Linked DNA regions of Homo sapiens: regions 2 and 3 are each linked to region 1. The links come from fine-mapping of genetic effects on gene expression. A gene starts in region 1. Each other region holds a variant in brackets. All regions are shown on one strand. Distances are between the middles of the regions. Region 1 holds the start of LACTB2 (lactamase beta 2). Region 2 has its middle 52 kb from the start of TRAM1. Region 3 overlaps TRAM1 (translocation associated membrane protein 1).

What was found. PIP is the estimated chance that this variant, and not a neighbour inherited with it, causes the effect. A credible set is the group of variants that fine-mapping cannot tell apart.
Region 2: its variant is the best candidate, but not a certain one, in a credible set for the expression of LACTB2 in whole blood (INTERVAL, PIP 0.81).
Region 3: its variant is the best candidate, but not a certain one, in a credible set for the expression of LACTB2 in monocytes (Fairfax 2014, PIP 0.86).

Annotation. Positions count from the first base shown.
Region 1 is chr8:70,665,061-70,673,724 of GRCh38, reverse strand. LACTB2 (lactamase beta 2) reads left to right here and starts at 4,540. Exons shown (of 7, transcript NM_016027.3): 1 at 4,540-4,726. The coding sequence starts at 4,605. XKR9 (XK related 9) reads right to left here and starts at 4,386. Exons shown (of 5, transcript NM_001011720.2): 1 at 4,187-4,386.
Region 2 is chr8:70,552,594-70,559,595 of GRCh38, reverse strand. No RefSeq gene overlaps it. Among named protein-coding and RNA genes, the nearest start is that of TRAM1, 52 kb to the left of the region's middle. The variant C/T (reference allele first, on the strand shown) is at 3,162.
Region 3 is chr8:70,567,880-70,576,543 of GRCh38, reverse strand. TRAM1 (translocation associated membrane protein 1) reads left to right here. Exons shown (of 11, transcript NM_014294.6): 11 at 1,539-3,326. The coding sequence ends at 1,612. Among named protein-coding and RNA genes, the nearest start is that of TRAM1, 36 kb to the left of the region's middle. The variant A/G (reference allele first, on the strand shown) is at 4,247.

The DNA of each region.
Region 1 (8,664 bases):
GCCGCGATCTCAGCTCACTGCAACCTCCGCCTCCTGGGTTCAAGTGATTCTCCTGCCTCGGCCTCCCAAGTAGCTGGGATTACAGGCACCCGCCACCATGCCCACCTAATTTTTGTATTTTTAGTAGAGACAGGGTTTCACCATGTTGGTCAGGCTAGTCTCCCAAAGTGCTGGGATTACAGGCGTGAGCCACCACACCCGACCAAAAAATATATCTAACTGTCCATAGGTTTCTTTACCTGGATATACCACAATTACCTCAATTTTATCTCATCTAAAACATAGTCACTATCTACCTTCTATTTGTACTCTTTTTCTAGTATCTCCTTGTATGGCCCTATGCAAGTTGCCTTACTTTTAAATCATTTGGCCTATTCCTTCATCTGCCAAATGAGGAGCTTGGCAATTGATTAAATGGAATCCAGAAGGAAAGTGCAAGTGAAAGTTTAATTTTTAAAAAAAGCTAATGAAGCTGGACCTTGTCTCTCATCATATGCAAAAGCCAACTCAAGAAGGATTAAACGTAAGACCTTAAACTATAAAACTACTAGAAGAAAATATTGGTAAAATACATAAGGACATTGGTTTAGGCAAAGATTTTGTAGCTAAGACCTCAAAAGCACATACGACTAAAATAAAAACAGACAAATTTGACTATATTAAATGAAAAAGTTTCTGCACAGCAAAGGAAACAATCAACAGGGTGCAGAGACATCTGCTGAACAGAAGAAAATATTTGCAAACTATTCATCTGACAAGGGACTAATATCCAGAACATACAAGGAACTCAAACTCAACAAGAGAAAACACAAATAATCCCACCAAAAAGAGGGTACAGAACATGAATAGACGATTCTCAAAAGAAGACATACAAATGGCCAACAAACATATGAAAAAATGCTCAACATCACTAATCATCAGGCAAATGCAAATCAAAACCATAATGAGATATCATCTTACCCCAGTTAGAATAGCTGTTATTAAAAAGACAATAACAGATGCTGCAGAGGATGTAGAGAAAAAGGAACTCTCATACACAGTTGGTGGGAATGTAAATTAGTACAACCGCTATGGAAAACAGTACAGAGATGTATAAAATACACACACACACACACACAGAACTACCATATGATTTAGCAATCCCACTACTATTTGTATATCAAAGGGACAACTGCACCTGCATGTTTATCACAACATTATTCACAATAGGAAAGATATGAAATCAACCTAAAAGTCCATCAACAAACAAATGGATAAAGAAAATGTGATATATACACACAATAAAATACTATTTGGCCATAAAAAAATGAGATCATATTTCTGAGGGCTCTGTTCTGTTCCATTGATCTATATCTCTGTTTTGGTACCAGTACCATGCTGTTTTGGTTACTGTAGCCTTGTAGTATAGTTTGAAGTCAGGTAGTGTGATGCCTCCAGCTTTGTTCTTTTGGCTTAGGATTGACTTGGCAATGCGGGCTCTTTTTTGGTTCCATATGAACTTTAAAGTAGTTTTTTCCAATTCTGTGAAGAAAGTCATTGGTAGCTTGATGGGGATGGCATTGAATCTGTAAATTACCTTGGGCAGTATGGCCATTTTCACGATATTGATTCTTCCTACCCATGAGCATGGAATGTTCTTCCATTTGTTTGTCTCCTCTTTTATTTCCTTGAGCAGTGGTTTGTAGTTCTCCTTGAAGAGGTCCTTCACATCCCTTGTAAGTTGGATTCCTAGGTATTTTATTCTCTTTGAAGCAATTGTGAATGGGAGTTCACCCATGATTTGGCTCTCTGTTTGTCTGTTGTTGGTGTATAAGAATGCTTGTGATTTTTGTACATTGATTTTGTATCCTGAGACTTTGCTGAAGTTGCTTATCAGCTTAAGGAGATTTTGGGCTGAGACGATGGGGTTTTCTAGATAAACAATCACACGTATGTTTATTGCGGCACTATTCACAATAGCAAAGACTTGGAACCAACCCAAATGTCCAACAATGATAGATTGGATTAAGAAAATGTGGCACATATACACCATGGAATACTATGCAGCCATAAAAAATGATGAGTTCATATCCTTTGTAGGGACATGGATGAAATTGGAAACCATCATTCTCAGTAAACTATCGCAAGAACAAAAAACCAAACACCGCATATTCTCACTCATAGGTGGGAATTGAACAATGAGATCACATGGACACAGGAAGGGGAATATCACACTCTGGGGACTGTGGTGGGGTCGGGGAAGGGGGGAGGGATAGCATTGGGAGATATACCTAATGCTAGATGACACATTAGTGGGTGCAGCGCACCAGCATGGCACATGTATACATATGTAACTAACCTGCACAATGTGCACATGTACCCTAAAACTTAGAGTATAATAAAAAAAAAAAAAAAATGAGATCATGTCATTTTCAGCAACATGGATGGAACTAGAGATTATGATAAGTGAAATAATCCATGCATAGAAAGACAAATATCACATATTCTCATTCATACGTGGGAGCTAAAAAGTTTATCTCAGCCAGGCATGGTGGCTCAAGCCTGCAATCCTAGCACTTTGGGAGACCAAAGCAGGAGGATCACCTGAATCGCTTGAGTTCAAGAGTTCAAGGTTACAGTGAGCTATGATAGTGCCACTGCACTGCAGCCCGGGTGAAAGCCAGACCCTGTAAGTAAATAAGTAAGTTAAGTAAGGAAATTAATTAAGCCAAAGAATAAAAGAAGGGGAGTGCCCAGATTCTCAGGAATCTGGTCCAGAAATTACTGTTCCATCCTCTTCTCCAGGGTTCACTGACTTTCCAGCAGAGTTCTTAAAAAGGGAAGATGTGCAAAGCCTCCTGCCTGAATAGCCATTAATTGATGGCTATCATAAATACATATTGACAGATTGAAATGCCTGATGTAGGAGATTTGGTTACTTTAAGTATTTTTTGAAGGGTATACTGTTTAACTTCCCATTGCAACAGGGGATAACTTATATGATTATTTCAGCGATGATTTTTTGAATATTTTTCCATTAAAAGTACAACTGTGTGAAACAAGGCAAAGACATTTCTCACACACAAAGCAGATGTCATTAGCCACTCTGATACACTATGCTGCTGATTCATAAAATAGGTAAGAGCAGATCGTTTTCTTCATCAGAAATATCTGGAAAAAAAAAAGCCACCAAGCACTGTATGTGTCAATTTCTCACCTTTTTTTAAAAAAAAAAAGAGTGGGCTGCTACAGTGGATATGTTCTACATCTCTTTGGGGCAGTGATTACATACAATTGTCATAACTCGATGGAACTGTCTACAGGATCTGTGTATTTTCTTTTAAGTAATTTATAACTCAACTTTTTTTATGGGAAGCTGTAGTTAACACTGGATAGTTAATACTTGGCTGATAAGAAACCGACTTGTTACAGAGAAAATGAGTCCCTTCCATCTTGGGCACAAAACGGCTCCACAAGACCAGCCTAGCTCTCTGGGCAGGCAGGTAACACTGGCAGGCAGAGGCATGCTCCTTGAATCTCACTGAGGGGGACAAGTGTTAGTGCGAGGCAGGTAGGAGCAAGGCCGCACACGCAGACTCTGTCATCTGGGCAGCTGCCCAATCCCCGTTTTTCATTTGTAACAAAAATAGTGTCCACCTCTTAATAATGTTCTGAGGATTAAGGGCGTTAAGTCGGATGTTTGTTGAAAGCACTTAGGCATAGTAGGAAGTACTAAGTAAATATGTCTTACCACTATTTATTATAAAAGATGAACAGGCTGGCCCGGCGTGGTAGCTCACGCCTGTAATCCCAGCACTTTGGGAGGCCGAGGCGGGCGGATCACGAGGTCAGGAGATCAAGACCTTCCTGGCTAACACAATGAAACCCGGTCTCTACTAAAAATACAAAAAATTAGCCGGGCGTGGTGGCGGACGCCTATAGTCCCAGCTACTCGGGAGGCCGAGGCAGGAGGATGGCGTGAACCCGGGAGGCGGGGCTTGCAGTGAGCCGAGATCGCGCCACTGCACTCCAGCCTGGGCGACAGACCGAGACTTCGTCTCAAAAAAAAAAAAAAAAAAAATGAACAGGCTACTACTACTACTACTACACACACACACACACACACACACACACACACAGAGCCACTGCCTAAAAATCTGGCAATCCTTCCTGACATTTATTACTGAATAACGAACGGTTACCAAACCTGTCTCCCAAATCACAAGACTCTTCCAGATTAAAATGTCTCTCGCCCACTTGGATCCACTCGCCTGTCTAGGACACAAACCCGTGAGGCACCAGCCCCCGTGACAGAGGCAGATTCCAGCTTCGCCTCACGCCACCTCACGCCTCGCGCCAGCCTTCCCACCACTGCCCGCGCAGCCCGCGCGGCGTCACGTGACCTCTAGTTCCGCACCGCCCCCCCCACCCCCCGGCCTAGCTGCCGGATCCCCGCCCCGGCTCGTCCGCGGTGTCACATGACACCTGGACCAGCCGCTGGCCAATCCCCTCCCTCCCGGGTTGCGAGGCATCACGTGGACGCTACTCGCTATCCCCGGCCTGTTGGCTTCTTCCGCGCTGGAGTATCCAGATAGGCGACACGCCGGCGGGCGGCTGAGGCGGGAATGGCTGCTGTACTGCAGCGCGTCGAGCGGCTGTCCAATCGAGTCGTGCGTGTGTTGGGCTGTAACCCGGGTCCCATGACCCTCCAAGGCACCAACACCTACCTAGTGGGGACCGGCCCCAGGTAAACGTCCCTCTCCAACCTCCCCAACGTTCGCAGCCGGCCCCGGAGCCCGGGCTTTGACTGATCGCGGCTGCGCGGGCAGTGGAGAGCGCCGCGTCCTGTCCCTAGCTGGGCAGCCCCGCGCCTAGCAGCCCCGTCGGGACTGCACGCAGACACTCGGATCTCGAAGCTAGCTAAAATACGACCACCCCAGGTGATAGCTCTCTAATTTAGGGAGAAATGGAAAAAAAAAAAAAAAAAAAAAAAAAAACTTCTGTTTTGAAACCCGATTTACTGTTCTTGATGTTTGAATGCCAGGGTGTGCGTGTTTAAACTGTTGAGAAAATTCGGATGTCAAGAGTCCAAGAAAGCGTTTACTTTGCTCACTTGACTTTCACTGGTGTTTTGCCCAGAGTGTAACTTCCCTTCTCAAAAGCGATTAATTATGTTGAGGCGATTTCCTCAACTCAGCAGCAGAGGGCAGGATTCTCCTGGCTTCCAAATTGGTTCTCTGCAGCCTGTGGGCTCATAAGAGGAGCTGACATAAGTAATTTGGGGAAGTTTTTTGTTACAATTGTGTGTGACCTTGTTTGAGTTTAATTTGCAGACACAGTAACACACCTGTATTTCTAAGAAGATACTTTTGCTCTTGTTTAGCTGCATTCTGTTTTAGTGGAATTATGCAGGAATGGGAGATTTGGTTTACTGCATAGTAAGTCTTAGGCATTTAGCAACTTTTGTAGTCTTTACTGGATGAACCCAGATAATGTAGTTTCTCTTGAGCATAGAATTTAATTGTGCAGTCAAGACATAAATTATTTTTAAAATATAATTGATTACTAAAAACGATTTAGTAAGTACAGTTAATTGAGTTTTCCTTGGAAGTGTCTACTGTTTGGCGTTTTTCCAGTAAATAAGAATTTTAGAAGCAGCAGACCTGCAAAGTGGGCAGGTAAAAGATTAAGTTCAGAGTAAATAAGGCAGGGTCAGGTAGTTACCAAAGGTTTAGGCTGCCACCAGAATCTAGGAGGATAGAGAATTAAGCAGGAAAAATGCCAGATCTCTAGGGTACAGTCTGTCTTGGCTGGAAGTCCCTCAACCAAGTAAATCCATAGGCGGTCTCTCTACAGTGTGTCATCTTGAACTAGTCAATACCTCAGACAAAAGATGCATATTATCAGAATTACCCTGGAAAGTCTCTTAGAAGAACACCATGTTGGAGATCAGTGTATTGTCTCAGTAAGTTCAGCACAACCTGCCTTTTTTCCAGCGTTGAAACAGATGGCTGATTCTGTTTGAAAACCAGGTGAAGAAATTGGCTTGTGTTGAGGGGCTATATTGTATGAAAAATACATACTGTATCTTTAAACACTATAATCACACTCAACATAGCAAAGTGCTAGTGCTAAGAGAGACTTAAAGACTAACTGAGGGAAAAGCAGATTTATAGTCTCTCGTCTTAAATTACTTAACACTGTTGCTCACATAAATTAATGGAGTGGAATGGCCAGTGGAATTACTTGCACTATGTAAATTATTTCTCCATATAGTTGAACTAGAGAGTCCGTATAGTTGAGCTAGAAATAAGTGTAGATAATGCTACTGTATAAAGTAAAAGGTGTAAAGTAAAAGGTGGCTAGAAGTTAATATTAATTGGCCCCTTGTCAGATGTTCTGAGATTGGTATCCACCTGTTCCGCTTCACAAAACAGTTCTAAGATCACAAGCGGCTTTTGTATCACTAACCCCAATGGTATTTTTCTGTTCTCATCTTCCTTGAACTTCAGTGCTTTGACACCATTGACGACTCCCTCCTTAATTTGCCAACACCACATTCTTCAGGTTTCCTATTACCTCTTGAGCTGCTCTTTCTCTTTCACCTTGATAGAGTCATCTTCTTTATCAAATCTTTAATTATTTTAGTTATTCAGTATATAATCCTCATCTCTCATGTTCTTCTACTGTATTCTCTACCTAGGTGATCTCATCTACTTATTTGGCTTTGCCTTTATTATCTGTTTATTATTAACTACCAAATATATAGCTCAAGTTCAAATTCCAAACTTGATCTTCAGACTCAAGTAGCCAACTTTTAAATCTATTTGCATGACTCACTGCTGCCTGGAACTCAGTGTTTTCCATACTGAACTCATAACCTTTCCAGAAAACTGCCAGGTCCTCCTTCAGTTGTTCATATCTTGATAAACAAAGCCATCAAAGGAAATGCCTAAATACCCTTCCTGACATTTATTTGCTTCCTACTGCATATCCAAGCCATTATGAAGATCTGTTCATGTCCCCTGCTGTCACTCAGTCCAAGCCAGCACAACTCTTGCTTAGGCTACTGTAATAGCCTCCTAATTGGCTTCTGTACGACTACCTCTGTCTCTCTTCAATCCAATCTTCCCTTTGTAGCCTGAGTGGTATTTTAGGAATTAAAACTGGAAGGCCTTGTGTATTCTGGCCTCCATCAGTCTTATCAGGCTCCTCTCAAACCTCTCCCACTCCAGCCATGCTGGCCTTCTAGTGTCTCAGATGAGGTTTGTGATTCCCTGTCTCAGGGCCTTCACGCATGCTTTCCTCTTTCTTCCACTCATTCCTCCCTTCTTTACCCAGCTAATCTCATTCATCCTTTAGAGCACAGTTTAAATACCATTTCCTCATGGAAGTCTTCCCTGACCCATCAGACTGTATTAGGGACACTCCATACTTTTCATGGTCCTTATCTCAATGATAATGAAATGATTTTTTTGTGCAAGAAGCTTAGTGTCTTTCCACACCTTCATACCCCACTATAACATCAGTTCAGTGAAAGCATATTCATGGCTATATCCCCAGCACCTAGCACAGAGCCTTGTACACAGTTCAGGTAGAACAGTAAACAGTTGCTGAATGAATGAGCATTCTGTACATTTTCTCTTAATTTTCACTATTATGACTCCAGAACTGCTGGATAACTACAGTTTTAGCTGGTCTTCCTTCCTCATCTGATCAGCCCATGGAAGCCAAATGAATTTCACTAAAACACTGCTAGACCTAACTGTGATGCTTAGTACATAGGTACTCAATAAGCATTTGAATCAACAAATGACAGCCAAATTGTCCAGTGTTTTTACTTTCCTCCTCTGCTCAAGAACCTTTAAAAACTGCAATTTTAACCTTTCCTATCAAAATTGTACATACTTTGTGGGCAGACAGTGTGGCTGATAATAGAAAAAGGTAGTCAAGTGGAATAGAATTAAAACTCTGGACTCTGGTTACCTCGATTAGAATCCTGGTGCCATTTACTAGCCATATGACTTTGGACAAGACAGTTCTAAGCTTCAGATTCCTGATACAACCCAATGAAGGTTGTGTAGTACCTACCTCATTGGATTTTATAAGGGCTCAGTGAAATTTAAGTGAAAAAACGTATATGAAAAGCACTTAACAAGTTCTAGCACGTGGAAAACATACCATGTTAGCCATTATGTTTATCACTTCTGCTTTCCTCATAACATCTAGATAACACTGTGCTCATAGTAGGTGTTCAGAAAATATCTAATGATTTTATAAGAGTGACAGCAAATAGAGACCAGTTAATAGCTATCTTAATATTGACATGAAATACCTATAACAAGGAATTTGATTCTACTAATTTTCCATCAATTAAAAATTTTTTTCTCCATTCATGTAGCAAACAGTTATTGTGTGCCTACTATGTGCCAGGCACTTTGCTCTAGTGAATAAATCGTTCATAGACCTATACAGATTCATCCATACTCTTCCCTTGAGCCCTTCATTAGCATAATTTGCATTTGCAAAATGACCTCCTGAGATAGGGATATTATTATCTGTGGCCAAGAAGAACAAAGTCAACTAGCCCATGTAGAGATGATACTATCCAATCATCTATTATAACTATTTACAGACATCACTGATAGAGTAACTGTTTGCTAAGGGAGAAACTGATAACATTTT
Region 2 (7,002 bases), 110 kb after region 1:
AGACTAGCTAACCAGAGTTCAAATCGTGACTCCTCCACTGATCAGCTCTGTGTGATTAAATGTCTGTACCACAGTTTTCTGTGGTAATAACACCTACTCCACAAGATATGAACATGAACTGTGCATAGCCCTATGCCTGATGTTTATTAAATGTTAGTTGCTAGCTCATAAGGTTGTGACAAACACAGCAGTAATTGTCACTGCTGTTACCACTTTTCTGTTTTATGTTGAAGTTTCACAACACTGTTCAGCATTCATGCCATGCAATGCAAGCACAGTGTTCCACGACTCTACTCTGGAGCAGATGGGCCAATAAAGTTGCAAGAAATGTTCAAGCCAACATTACAGCCAGCAAAGTTACACTGAATCATTGGATGACTGTGCAGGCATGCTTCACCAACACAAACATTCATAAATCAAACATCCAAGTCTGTGCTGAATCATTTATACCTATGTGATATAATAATTATAAAAGCGAGTTGTAGGTATGGTTTCTAAGGAATGACTTTTTAAAGTCAGATATCTATGGTTTATGGGGCCATATTTCCATTTAGCTGATGTATATAACTTCTAGAGAATTTTTGGCTGCTTGGAGTTGCCTAACCTTCCAGTGTAAAGAATCAAACTTCATTAGGTAAATGAGAACGTTACAACACAATGTTTATCATGAAGTTTGAACTGATATCATAAAATGTCCTAGAATTCACATTTCTCCAAGTGGGCTGGAAGGCCTGGATGTGACAGTACATGGGGCATCCACATGTAAGTGTGGGTCATGTGTGAAAGAGTGAAATCTGAAGACTAAGGTACATACTCTGTTGTGTCCTTGCTGATTGCCTTCTGAACTAATCCTTTTCTCTTCTTATATCAAATATAAGAAAATACGGCCAGGCACGGTGGCTCACGCCTGTAATCCCAGCACTTTGGGAGGCCGAGGCAGGTGGATCACCTGGGGTTGGGAGTTTGAGACCAGCCTGACCAACATGGAGAAACCCCGTATCTACCAAAAATAAAAAATTAGCCGGGCTTGGTGGCGCATGCCTATAATCCCAGCTACTCAGGAGACTGAGGCAGGAGAATCGCTTGAATCCGGGAGGTAGAGGTTGTGGTGAGCCAAGATTGTGCCATTGCACTCCAGCCTGGGCAACAAGAGCGAAACTCCATCTCAACAACAAAAAAAAGAAAACACAGTAAAGTTACTTATGAGAACAATTATAATTTACCTAGCTCTGTCGCTCAGGCTGGAGTGCAGTGGCGCCATCTCAGCACACTGCAACCACCACCTCCTGGGTTCAAGCAACCCTTTCACATCGGCCTCCAGAGTAGCTGGGACTACAGGTGCACACCATTACGCCCAGCTAATTTTTGTATTTTTTATAAAGATGGGGGTTTCACCACGTTGCCCAGGCTGGTCTCAAACTCCTGCGCTCAAGCAATCCACCTGCCTCAGCCTCCCAAAGTGCTGGAATTACAGGTGTGAGTCACAGCACTTGGCCTATAATTTAATTATCAATGCAATTTAATCAACCTCATCTAAGTCACTAGTGACCTCAGGATCACCTATAGTGGTCCTTTTCCATTTCAAAGGAATGACAACATACAAACAATGTGACACCGGTTATTTGTCACTTAGGTCTGAAGGGAAAATATCTATACTGTATATACTAAGTAAATGAAAAATTAAGTATGGTTTTTAAGAAGTAAATTCAATTCTGTAGAATTAAGGCCTTGAAGACTACCAGGAATATGTTACAATGATTGGTGGTTGTATCCATTTGTTTTGCATTGCTATAAAGGAACCCCTGGGGCTAGGTAATTTTTAAAGATAACAGGTTTATTGGCTAATGGTTCTGCAGGCTGTACAAGAAACATAGCATCATCATCTGCTCAGCTTCTCATAAGGCCTCAGGAAGCTTTTACTCCTGGTGGAAGGTGAAGGGGAAGTAGATGTGTCACATGGTTAGAAGGGGAACAAGAGAAAGAGGAGGAAAGTTCCAGTCTCTATAACAACCACATCTCACACAAACTCATTACTTTGGGGAGGGCACAAAGTCATTCACAAGGGATCCACCCCCATGACTCAAACACCTCCCAGTAGGCCCCACCTTCAACATTGGAGATCACATTTCAACATAAGATTTGGAGGGGACAAATACCGAAACTATATCAGTGGCTTACCTACACCCTAATACATGTAGGAAGCTTTAAAAAATTCAAAAGAGATGTGAGGCTGGGTTCAGCTTCATCTTCAAAGAGAAATTCCATAACTGCAGAATCATCAATCATTCTCTGGGAACAGAAAGCCCTAGTTGAAACCTAGAAGTCATTTCTTTGTTGATATGGTGAGTCAACTCTGTCTCAGTGCAGAAATACTGGTTCGAAGGAATGAGATGGAGAAGGACAGATAATTGTTAGCAAAAAGAAATCTCTTTCTGAAGAGATAATACTCTGCAGTGATTTTCATTGAAATTTACAAAACATCTCTAAATATTGGCCTTTATACAGTAAGCTCAGGCTTATTCTGCTATTATATAGCAACTTAATTTTGCATGACCTGTGGTGGCGGGGTTTTTTTTTAATTTGTTTTTATGAAGGATCAAACAGAATAAGGAATTTTTGTTTGTTTGTTTGTTTTGAGACCAGGTCTCGCTCTGTTTCCCAGGCTGGAGTGCAGTGGTGTGATCACAGCTCACTGCAGTCTCAACCTCCTGGGCATAGGTGATCCTCTTGGCTCAGCCTTCCAAGTAGCTGTGACCACAGGTGCACACCACCACACCTGGCTGATTTTTTAACTATCTGTAGAGATATAAATAATTTGCAGATGTCCCTATGTTGCCCAAGCTAGTCTCGAACTTCTGGACTCAAGTGATCCTCCTGCCTCTGCCTCCCAAAGTGCTGGGATTACAGATTTGAGCCCCTGCGCCAGGCCAGAATAAAGAACTTTAAAAAGCAATGCCATCTTGTAACTTCAGGTTTAAGTAATCACTGCTCTCCTTGTTTTACTGTATTTTGATGAGTATCAACATTCCGATTACAGTCCGGCATCTCTTAATAGGCAATGCCAATCATACCCCATTATATATTGCTGTGGAGTAAATACTCAGTAGGGGCTACTGCAATCACCAGCCTAATTTTCCACTCACACTCCATTCATGTCAGCA[C/T]TTTAGTCTCCAAAGGTAAGAGCAGCTGTATTCGTTATACTCATCAACCCAGCTGCTCTTATTTGTTCCTTTTCTTTTTTTTTCTAATGTCCCCACTTCTCTACTAAAAGAAACACTTTTGCCCTGTGATTTTTTTTTTCAGTTGGTTACTTCAGCTGATCTTTATGTCAGCTGATCCTTATGCAGTATTTGCCCTTCCATCTAAAATTGTGTTCTTACATACCACAATTTCCAGTTCCAAAGAGGAGACCCCCACACTGCTATGGTTTGCTCTGACGGAATGGCCAAAGTGGGGGAACAAGTTAAAAGTGGGTCCAGAACTTTGCTCATTTATATGAAAGTTTGGTCTTAAAAGTATTGGATCAATAAAAGTATTAGAAATTAATTTCTTCTTGATATTTTTAATTGCCTAAAAAAACAGAAGTTATCAGTTGCATGGGATGTTTTGTACTTAGTGATTCTCATTTCAGAGAAGCTTAGTTTTAATGAGTTCCTATCCGGAAATGCTCTGACTCCCCTTCAGTTCTGCAAATGTCTGTTCCTGAGAGGATGGTTCACATTAATTACAGTGTCTCTTCATCTTCCCCTGCATGCAGCAGGGTTCAGCACCTTGCTTTTGAAATGAACGAAATGGGGAAAGGATGCTTGCCTTTCATACATCCTAGTATTATATATAGCACAGGACCTCTCCTACCTCAGAGTCCCCACAATAACCTCCCACAGCCCAGTCTTTATCTTCCACAATCTTATTTATTTTGAGGCAGGATCTCACTCTGTCCCCCAGGCGGGGGTGCAGTGGTATGATCAAGGCTTACTGCAACCTCCACCTCCCAGGTTCAAGCGATCCTCCCACCTCAGCCTCCTGAGGAGCTGGACCTACAGGCGCACATCACTACGCCTGGCTATAAATGGTGCATTCTTGCTGTGACAGCAAGGACATGGCAGAAAGGACAAGGCAGCTCTCTGGACCTCTTTTATAAAAACACTAATCCCAATCATGAGATCAGAGCCTTCATGACCTAATCACCTCTCAAAGGTCCCACTCCTAACACCATCATCACCTCGTGGGGGTAGGATTTCAACATATATATTTGGGGGGCATGGTGATATAAACATTCAGACCATTGCTACAAGGATACTGTATTTTCTTTTTTCTAAATGTGCTCTCTTCATACTTTAGCATTTCTGAAATAAAAATGGGTCTTTCAGTAGCAAATTTCTCTTAGTGGCCTACAGCATAAAGACTTTTTTTTTTAACCTGATTGTTAGGGTTTAAATGTTTGTCTCTTCCTAAACTCATGTTGGAATTTAATTTCCTTTGTAATAGTATTTAGAGGTGGGATCTTTAAGAGGTGATTAGGCCATGAAGACTCTGCCCATATAAATAGATTAATGTTAATATGGGAGTGGGTTTCTGATGAAAGGACAAGTTAGGTCAGGCATGGTGGCTCATGCCTGTAATCCCAGCACTTTGGGAGGCCAAGGTGGGAGGACTGCTTGAGCCCCAGAGTTCAAGACTAGCCTGGGCAATATGGTGAAACCCCACCTCTACAACAGATTAAAAACATTAGTAGGGCATGGTGGCACATGCTTGTGGTCCCAGCTACTCAGGAGGCTGAGGCAGGAGGATGACTTGAGCCCAGGAAGTTGAGGCTTCGGTGAGCCATGGTTGTGCCACTGCACTCCAGCCTGGGTGACAAAGTGAGACCCTGTCTCAAAATAAATAAATAAACAAATAAATAAATAAATAAATAAAAAGACAAGTTAAACACCTCTATTTTTCTCTCCCTCTCTCTGTCTCTCTCTCTCTCTCCCTCTCTTTGCCTTTATGCCATGGAGTTATACAGCAAGAATGCCCCTGCCAGATGCTGGACCTTCAGTTTTGGACTTCCTAGCCTCCAGAACCATAAGCCAATACATTTCTGTCTATTATAAATCATCCAGCCTGTGGTATTCTGTTATAGCTTCACAAAGTAGACTAAGACACTGACGAATTCTTAGATTGCATGAAATTCAGTATATATTGCTAATATTTATCGATGGATAAGTCCCAGTTGGTATTTTATGTGCTTTACCCCCATCATTTATAAACTCCACAAGGATACCTTGAATAGTTGGGGATCATCCTATTAACACTGTTTTATAGAAATTGAATCTCAGAGGGGTCAAGTGACTTAGTAAGTGGCAAAGCCAGGTTTTGCACATGTCTGTGGTGGAGCCTCTGTTCTTCACTGTGTCCTACCACACAGTCTGGCAAAACAAGGACAAGACTGCTTAGAAGATGTACAAAGTCCTGGCGTGGTGGCTCACACCTGTAATCCCAGCACTTTAGGAGGCCGAAGTGGGTGGATCACCTGAGGTCAGGAGTTCAAGACCAGCCTGGCCAACATGGTGAAACCCTGTCTCTACTAAAAATGCAAAAATTAGCCAGGCATGGTAGTGGGTGCCTGTAATCCCAGCTACTCAGGAGGCTGAGACAGGAGAATCACTTGATCCTGGGTGGTGGAACTTGCAGTGAGCCAAGATTGAGCCACTGCACTCCAGCCTAGGTGACAAAGCGAGACTCCATCTCAAAAAAAAAAAAAAAAAAAAAAGAAGATGCACAAAGAGGTCGAACATGGTGGCTCACGCCTGTAATCCCAACATGGATAACCTGAGATGAGGAGTTTGAGACCAGCCTGGCCAACATGGCAAAACCCCGTCTCCACTAAAACTACAAAAATTAGCCGGGTGTGGTGGCAGGCGCCTATAATCTCAGCTACTTAGGAGGCTGAGGCAGGAGAAATGCTTGAACCCGGGAGGTGGAGGTTTTAGTGAGCTGGGATCACACCACTGCACTCCAGCCTGGGCAACAAGAGTGAGACTCTGTCTCAAATCATTAAAAAAAAAAATAGAAGTCACAGAAACTAAGCAAGAGGACTTCAGGGAATGAATGGTTGGCAGTGCCAAAAGTTTCAAAGAAGAAAAAATACAAAGCCTAAAAAAAGTTCATCAAATCTGTTTCCTAGAAAGCCATGGGTGCCCTCAGTGAAAAAGAGCAACAGGTGTCACCAAGGGGTTCCCTCTGCCTCACTTTCACGCATTTTTCTCATGCACCTAAGGTCAAGAGGATTGGGGGTTGGGGTGGATCTTTGTCTGGTCTGGTCCCCCGTGGGCAGCAGATGCTGGACTCCTCCGAGCACATGGGAAGAGACTGTGAGTGTTTTCCTGGCACTGACAAACACCAACTCTGGCCTGTAGAAGACCTGGATGGGAAAAGTGTGGGGAGGGTCGCTGGGGTACTGGGACATGCCCAGCACTTCCCTCACTGGGATGGGGAGGGACTGCTTCCTCCTCACTGGGAGCTGAGCCAGGACCTTTCAGGCATTGCTGCAGGCATGAGTTTTGAGGACAGAGTTTCACACAAATCTGCCACACAGGAGAGGGGGTGATGAATCCCCAATGGCTGGATGTGCTCATATAGGCCTACAGCTTGGGAATGCCCGCAACAGGGCACCTGAGAAAAGAGGACCCCAGACAGGGTGCCCTTTCCTCCTACTGCCTGGCAGGGCGGACCCATGAAGAGTGCAGCAGCTGCTGCATCTGGAGACTGCCACAGCCTGTGCCCCCGACCCAGGAGTTTTGATCATTTCACTGGTCATGCCTCAGTTACTAATATAAGTCAGTTCTTGCCATTGAAAGTGACTTTGTATGGCCTACAACTGTCCTTGCAAGCTATAGGGACCTGCCTGAGATTATATCCTCAGGAAGGAAAAGATGTAGCCCATAGAGTAGGTTGGGAGGGACAATGAAACTAAAGTGGCTTTGATCCAACCCTGTCAAACCCAATTCACTCAATACA
Region 3 (8,664 bases), 97 kb after region 1:
TAGTCGTTTCTCTTTTGGTAAATAATGTTTTTCAAGGAATTTGTCTAGTTCATATAAATTTGCAAATACATCGGCATAAAATTATTCATATGACTTTCGTTATCCTGTTAACACCTCTAAATCAGGAGTGATTCCTGTTTTTCATTTCATGTTGTTAGTAACGTAAGCCTTTTATCTTTCCTTCCATCAGTCAAAACCAACATTTGTCTTTTTGTGTTGATTTTCCTAGTTGTCTCTTTTCTGGATCATTGATTTCTATTCTTTCCTTTTCATTGGGTTTAATTTGCGGTTTTGTTTGTGATTTACCTTCTTGAGATGGATCTTTGGAGCATTGATTTGTATCTCTTGTGAATTACATTCAGTTAATGGTAAACTTTTCCTTTCAACACTGCTTTAACTGTATTTCACAAGGATTTTTTGTTTTGTTTTGGGGTTTTTTTTTGTGTGGTTTTTTTTTTTTTTTCTTTTTTTTTTAGATGGAGTCTAGCTCTGTTGCCCACGCTGGAGTGCAGTGGCGCGATCTCAGCTCACTGCAACCTTTGCCTCCCGGGCTCAAGTGATTCTCCTGCCTCCCAGGTAGTCAGGATTACAGGCACCCACCACCACAACCAGCTAATTTTTGTATTTTTAGTAGAGATGGCATTTCACCACGTTGGCCAGGCTGGTCTTGAACTCCTGGCCTCAGGTGATCCACCCACCTCAGCCTCCCAAAGTGCTGGGATTACAGGCGTGAGCCACCATGCTTAGTCTGTATTTCACAGGTTTCAATATGTCTTTTTCATTATTATTCAGTTCAATGATATCTGTGCTGGGATTCCACTTGTGCTGTGATTATAGGTGCAAGCCATTGCCCCCGCCTCAAACATCCATTTCTGTATGCAACTTTTGTATTTTTGGAGAGAGAGTCAGTCACACATACGCTACTCCATCATAGCTTGAAGAAGGCCATTACTATTAGCCAGGTGTGGTGGCACATGCCTGTAGTCCCAGCTATTTGGGAGGCTGAGGTCCCCGGGAGCATCACTGGTCCCCGGGAGTTCAAGACTGCATTGAGCCATGATCGTGCCACTACACAGCCTTGGTGACAGAGTGAGACCCTGTCTCAAAAAACAACAGTAACATAAATAAATAAAAAGAAGGCCATAATACACGCCTCCACATAGAAATTATCCTAAACACCAACTTTACTATATTGTAAACAAATATCCCCAAGGACTTCGCTGTCAAATGTGAAAAGTTTCTTTATTTCTACAGAAGGTATTTCTCTTGAATACTATTTTTAAATTCTTGTGACTTTATAGTTTTCTGTGCTGTCACTTTTTTCTGCTTTTAATAGTAGTTTTCTTTTAATTTGCTACTTTCAGTTCATTGTGTTAAAAATGTTACCAGGTTTTGTGATTGGTTAAATACTGGTAAGTAAATTTCACCTGAGTGAATTGGATTTTACATTTTCTTTTCTGAAGGTATCTTTACATATAAAGATTATAACTTGCATTTATTTATAAAAGAGAGTAACATGGATTCTTTTCTTTTTGCAGAAAATGGTGTGAATGGAACATTAACTTCAAATGTAGCAGACTCTCCCCGGAATAAAAAAGAGAAATCTTCATAATGAATTATAAACTAATTGATTAATGTCCCCAAAGAAATCTGCTTTCTACTATATCTTTCAGCATTAGAGATTTTTCTGTTCTTGAAAATACAGTCTGTGCTCTTTGATTTTTGCTATTGTACGGTTTCATGCATTTTTTTAAAGGGCATTTGAGGGGAGGATTATTGCTATGAATGAAAAAAATATTTTAGCTTAGACTAAGCTACCTGCCTTCAAAATAGTTTAGGGACCACCACCATATTTTATTTTGTTTTTATTTTTGAACATTTTTCTAATGATTTGGAGAGAAAACTATTTACAAAAATTCCACATATCAGTGATACAATTTCTTGCTGTCACCAATTTTTTATAATAGCAGAGTGGCCTGTTCTAAGAAGGCCATATTTTTTAAGTTATCTTTCAGGGTAACATGGAAATACTATAAAGTTGGATGTCAAACTTTAATATGTTTTCAGTGTTCTCTAATTTTTTGGAATTTTTGTAGACTTTACACCTGGAAAAAAAGATTTGTAAAATCACCGGAACAATTGTGTGCTTTATTTTATAGGTAGTGGTTATTAGTATTACATCCCCATTTTAAAAACAAAAACATAATAATCGTTACAACACGTGGAGTTTTACTAACATACATATTAAATCAAAGTATATTCTTAAAAGTACTTGTGAAGTAAAATCTTTCTTGTGCATTTTCAATACTTGTAAACTGGAAATCAGAAAATATTTACTATGAACAGGAAAATCTGACATATAGCCCTTTTTGATATGTTTATTAATAATGATTCTTAATGGGGCTCATAATAAGTTTAATATGCACAGCATCTTAGAAAAGTTTAACCTGCAAACACTTTTAAAACATAATGCCTACTTGATTTATATCTATAAAAAGACTGACAGGTAATTATATTTGGAAAACATTTAATGCACTAACTTTAAAGAAATTGAAAATTCAGGTGGATAAATAGTCTTACAAAAGACAATGTGCTTTATGTTATACCTATAGCTTTGGTCCCATCTTTAATTGAGAAACATTTATCTGTATAAAACATATTTTTGGATAAATATATATATATATATTTGTATCTCTACAGAAAGGCTCTAAAAAGCATTTGAGGAAAATATTTGGTTCCCTTTTCTATAATCATCCTTTAAGATTCTTATAGCTACATTTGGTTTATTCATCATATTTACAGTATATATATTGTTCTTTTCAGTGTTCACATCTTGTTCCCCATTTCTCACTTGTGTCACCAGCTGTTTGTGCCATTTTTAGTGTAAAAGTTGCAGACCTATTAGATCTGCAGTTTAAGTTGCCATGCTGCTAGGAAATTGTCCTTTTTCTTTCTAGCTGTTAACCTACTTCCTGGAAAAAGTAGTAGCTCTCTGTAGCATTATGGAGTTTCAGTGGAACCAAATTTTTGCCATTAAAAACTGGCATTATACTGAACTATACATTGAGAAATCAATCAAAATAAAAATTTTTACTTTCACAAGTTGTATCCTGGATGTTTCTGTCATTGTTGGTGTTTAGGCTATTTTGGTATATAACCTCATTAAAATGTACCATATTTAAAACACTTCATAGACATTCAGAATAACCCTTTTCAAAATTGTGTTCTGCAAATAAACAGATTTGTTCCACAGAATATTGGTGAGGACTACTGGGGGGATAGATGGTCATAACCAAATAAATCTGGGAATCACTGGATTAAACTAACCTAAAGGTGTCTCTTTATTATGGGACCGTTCAGTCCTTAATATGCAAACGTGTTTCCTGGTGCACCAAGAATGTTGGATATAATATGCAGTGTTTCCCACCTTATTTGCCTGTAGAATTTTCTGTTCACTGAATTACTATAGCACTTTGTTTTCTGCAGCATACACTGTGTTTAGGCAAAGAAAAAAAAAAGCCCTTGACATGTCATTACCAAGGGCTAATATATACACAGAAGCACATATACACACAAGTATGATTATAAATTATGAGCCCTACATCCTGCTCTCAAATGTGCTGAGGAAAGTCTGTACTGGCTTCCAGATCCTGCAGAGCCTGCCATTATCACCTGGGCTCAAGTCGAGCTTCAAAGCATGATGGGAATCCTGTAGGGACCCACACCTGGACAAGGCTCATGGCTCTGTCTTAAACCCGGGGGGACCATGAATTAGTTGCTTTGCTACTCTGGGGTTTAGTCTTTCCCTCCACAAAATGCCTCCTGCATTTTTTTTAACTGTAAATTGACAATTTATAATTGTACGTGGGGGTACAAAATGGTGTTATGATTTATGAGTATAATGGAATAATTAAGCTAGTTAACATCCATCACCTCAAACACTTAACATTTTTTGTGATGAGAACATGGAAATTTAGTTTTGAAATGTATAATGCTGTTATTAACTATATTTACCATGCTGTGCAGTAGAACTAAAAAATTCCTTCTGCCATATTTTACACCCTTTGACCATCATCTCCCCATTCCTCTCAGCCCTGAGCCTTTGTAACCGTCATTCTACACTCTGATTCTGTGAGTTTGTTTTAGATTCCATATATAAGTAAGTATGTGCCATATTTGTCTTTCTGTGTCTGATTTACTTCACTTAGCATAATGTTCTTCAGTTTCATCCATGTTGTCACAAATG[A/G]CAGAATGTCTTTTTTAAAGGCTGAATAGTATTCCATTGTGTATATATACCCCATTTTCCACATTTTCTTTAGCCATTCATCTGCTGATAGACATTAGGTTGATTCCATAACTTGGTTATTGTAAATTTAGTGCTACAGTGAACACAGGGCTGCAAACATCTCTTCGACACACTGATTTCAAATCTCTTCGACACACTGATTTCAAATCTTTGGGTTGAATTCTCAGAAGTGGGATTGCTGGATCATATGGTAATTCTATTTTAGTTTTTTGAAGAACTTCAGTTTTCCTTAATGGCTGTACTAATTTACATTCTTAACAGTGTATACTGATTCCCTTTTCTCCACATCCTTGCCAACATTTGTTATCTTTTGTTTTTGTTATGATAGCCATTGTGACAGGTGTAAGATGACATCATACTGTGGTTTCAATTGGCAGTTTTTCCATTATGTTTCCTTTAGTAGTGTTACAGTTTCTGGTCTTACATTTAAGTCCTTAATCTATTTTGAGTTGATTTTTGCATATAGGTAAGATGAAGGTCCAATTTCATTCTGCATGTGGGTATCTAGTTTTCCTAGCACCATTTATTGAAGAGACTATTCTTTTCCCATTGTATATTCTTGGCACCTTTGTGGAAAAGCAATTGACCATGTGTATACCTGGGTTCATTTATGGGCTCTCTATTCTGTTTCATATGTACTTGGTGTTTTTGTTTGTTTGTTTTGCAAGTACCATGCTTACTTTTGTTTTTTAAAATATATACACAGGGAGCCAGGGGTCTTACTATATTGCCCAAGCCAGTGTCAAACTCCTCACCTTGAGCGATGCTCCTGCCTCAGTATCCCAAAGTGCTGCGATTACAAGTGTGATTACTAACACTTTTTTTTTCAATAGATTTTAGGGAACAGATGGTTTGGGTCACATGGATAAGTTATGTGGTGGTGATTTCTGAAATTTTGGTGCACTTCCCACGTGAGCAGTGTACAGTGTACCCGATGTGTAGTTTTTTATACCTCACTCCCCTACTATCCTTCCCTGAGTCCCCAAAATCCATTATGTCATTCTTATGCCTTTGCATCCTCATAGCTTAGTTCCCACTTGTAAGTGAAGATATACGATACTTGGTTTTCCATTCCTGAGTTACTTCACTTACAAAAATGGTCTCAAGCTCCATCCAGTTTGTTGCAAATGCCATTATTTTATTCCTTTTTATGGCTGAGTAGTATTCCATGGTATAAATATACCACATTTTCCTTATCAACATGTTGGTTGATGGGCATTTAGGCTGGTTCCATATTTTTGTAATTGCAAATTGTGTTGCTATAAACATGCGTGTGCAAGTGTCTTTTTCATATAATGACTTCTTTTCCTCTGGGCAGATACCCGGTAGTAGGACTGCTAGATCAAATGGTAGTTTTAGTTTATTAAGGAATCTCCATACTGTTTTCCATAGTAGTTGTACTAGTTTACATTCACACCAGCAGTGTAAAAGTTCCCTTTCACAACATCCACATCAACATCTATTTTTTTTTTTTAATTATGGCCATTCTTGCAGGAGTGAGGTGGTATCTCATTGTGGTTTTAATTTGTATTTCCCTGACAATCAGTGATGTTGGGGATTTTTTCATGTTTATTGGCTATTCATGTATCTTCTTTTGAGAATTTTCTATTCATGTCCTTTGCCCACTTTTTGATGGAATTTTTTTCTTGCTAATTTGTTTGAATTTGTTGTAAATCTGGTTATTAGTCCTTTGTTGGATACATAGTTTGTGAATATTTTCTCCTACTCTGTGGGTTGTCTGTTTACTCTGATTATTTCTTTTGCTGTGCAGAAGCTTTTTAGTTTAATTAGGTCCCATCTATTTATTTTTTCTTTGTTACATTCGCTTTTGGGTTCTTGGTCATGAACTCTTTGCCTAAGCCAATGTCTAGAAGAGTTTTTCTGATGTTATCTTCTAGAATTTTTATGGTGTCAGGTCCTAGATTTAAGTCTTTGATCCATCTTGAGTTGATTTTTGTATGAAGTGAGAGATGGGGATCCAGTCTCATTCTTCTACATGTGACTTGCCAATCATCCCAGCACCATTTGTTGAATAGGGTGTCCTTTCCCTACTTTATGTTTTTGTTTGCTTTGTTTAAGAACAGTTGGCTGTAAGTATCTGGCTTTATTTCTGGGTTTCTCTATTCTGTTCCACTGGTCTGTGTGCCTATTTTTCTACCACGATCTTGCTGTTTTGGTAACTATAGCCTAGTTTGAAGTTGGGTAATGTGATTCCTCCAGATTTGTTCTTTTTCCTTAGTGTTGCATTGGCTATGTGAGCTCTTTTTATGGATCCGTATGAATTTTAGGATTGTTTTTACTAGTTCTGTGAAGAATGATGGTGGTATTTTGATGGGAATTGCATTGAATCTGTAGATTGCTTTTGGCAGTATGGTCATTTTCCCAATATTGATTCTACCCATCCGTGAGCATGAAATGTGTTTCCATTTGTTTGTGTCATCCATGATTTCTTTCAGCATTGTTTTGTAGTTTTCCTTATAGAGATCTTTTACCTCCTTGGTTAGGTATATTCCTAAGTTTTGGGGGTTTGTTTGTTTTGCAGCTGTCATAAAAGGGATTCAGTTCTTGATTTGATTCTCAGCTTGGTCATTGTTGGTGTACAGCAGAACTACTGGTTTGTGCAATTGATTTTGTATCCTGAGATTTTACTGAATTCATTATCAGATCTAGGAGCTTTTTGGATGAGTCTTTAGGGTTTTCAAGGTACATGATCATATCATCGTTAAACAGCAACAGTTTGAATTCCTCTTTACTGCCTTGGATGCCCTTTATTTCTTTCTCTTGTCAGATTGCTCTGGCTAGACTTCCAGTACTATATTGAATAGTAGTGATGAAAGTGGGCATTCTTACCTTGTTCTAGTTCTCAGGGGAAATACTTTCAACTTTTCCCCATTCAGTATAATGTTGGCTGTGGGTCTGTCATAGATTGTCATTATTACCTTGAGGTATGTCCCTTCTGTGTCAATCTTGCTGAGGGTTTTAATCATAAAAGGATACTGGATTTTGTCAAATGCTTTTCTGCATCTATTGAGATGATCATATGATTTTTGTTTTTAATTGTTTATGTGATATATCGCAATTGTTGATTTGTGTATGTTAAACCATCCCTGCATCCCTGGTATGAAACCCGCTTGATCATGGTGTGTTACCTTTTTGATATGCTGTTGGAGTCAGTTAGCTAGTATTTTGTTGAGGATTTTTCCATCTGTGTTCATCAAAGATATTGATCTGTAGTTTTCTTTTTTTGTTACATCCTTTACTAGTTTTGGTATTAGGGTGATACTGGCTTCATAGAGTGATTTAGAGAGGATTCCCTCTTTCACTATCTTTTATAATAGTTTCAGTAAGATTGGTACCAATTCTTCTTGGAATGTCTGATAGAATTCAGCTGTGAATCCGTCTGTTCCTGGACTTTTTTTGTTGGCAATTTATTTTACTACTGTTTCAATCTCACTACTTGTTATTGGTCTGTTCAGAGTTTCTGTTTCTTCCTGATTTAATCTAGGAGGGTCGTATATTTCCAGGAATTTATCCATCTCCTCTAGATGTTCTAGTCTGTGTGCATAAAGATGTTAATAGTAGCCTTGAATGATCTTTTGTATTTCTGTGATATCGGTTGTAATGTCTCCTGTTTCATTTCTAATTGAGCCTATTTGGATCTTCTTTTCTTGGTTAATCTCGCTAATGGTCTATCGATGTTTATCTTTTCAAAAAAATAGCTTTTGTTGCATTTATGTTTGTTTTTGTTGTTGTTTCAATTTTATTTACTTCTGCTCCAATTTTTGGTGTTTCTTTTCTTCTGCTAGGCTTGGGTTTGGTTTGTTCTTGTTTCTCTAGTTCCCTGAGGTGTGACTTTAATTGTCTATTTGTGCTCGTTCAGACTTTTTGATGTTGGCATTTAGGGCTATGAACTTTCCTCTTAGCATTGCTTTTGCTGTATCCTAGAGGTTTTGATAAAGTTGTGGCACTAATATTTTTCAGTTCGAATAATTTTTAAATTTCCATCTTGATTTCATTGTTGGCCCAAAGATCATTCAAGAGCAGATTATTTAATTTCCATGTATTTGTATAGTTTTGAGTGCTCTTTTTGGAGTTAATTTCCAGTTTTATTCCACTGTAGTCTGAAAAGATACTTGATATAATTTTGATTTTCTTAAATTTACTGGGACTTGTTTTGTGGCCTATCATACGGTCTATCTTGGAGAATGTTCCATGTGCTGATAAAAAAACGTGCTGATGAATGTATGTATAGTCTGCATTATTGGATAGAATGTTCTATAAATATCAGTTAAGTCCATTCTGAGGTATACTTTAAGTTCATTGTTTCTTTGTTGACTTCTATCTTGATGACCTGTCTA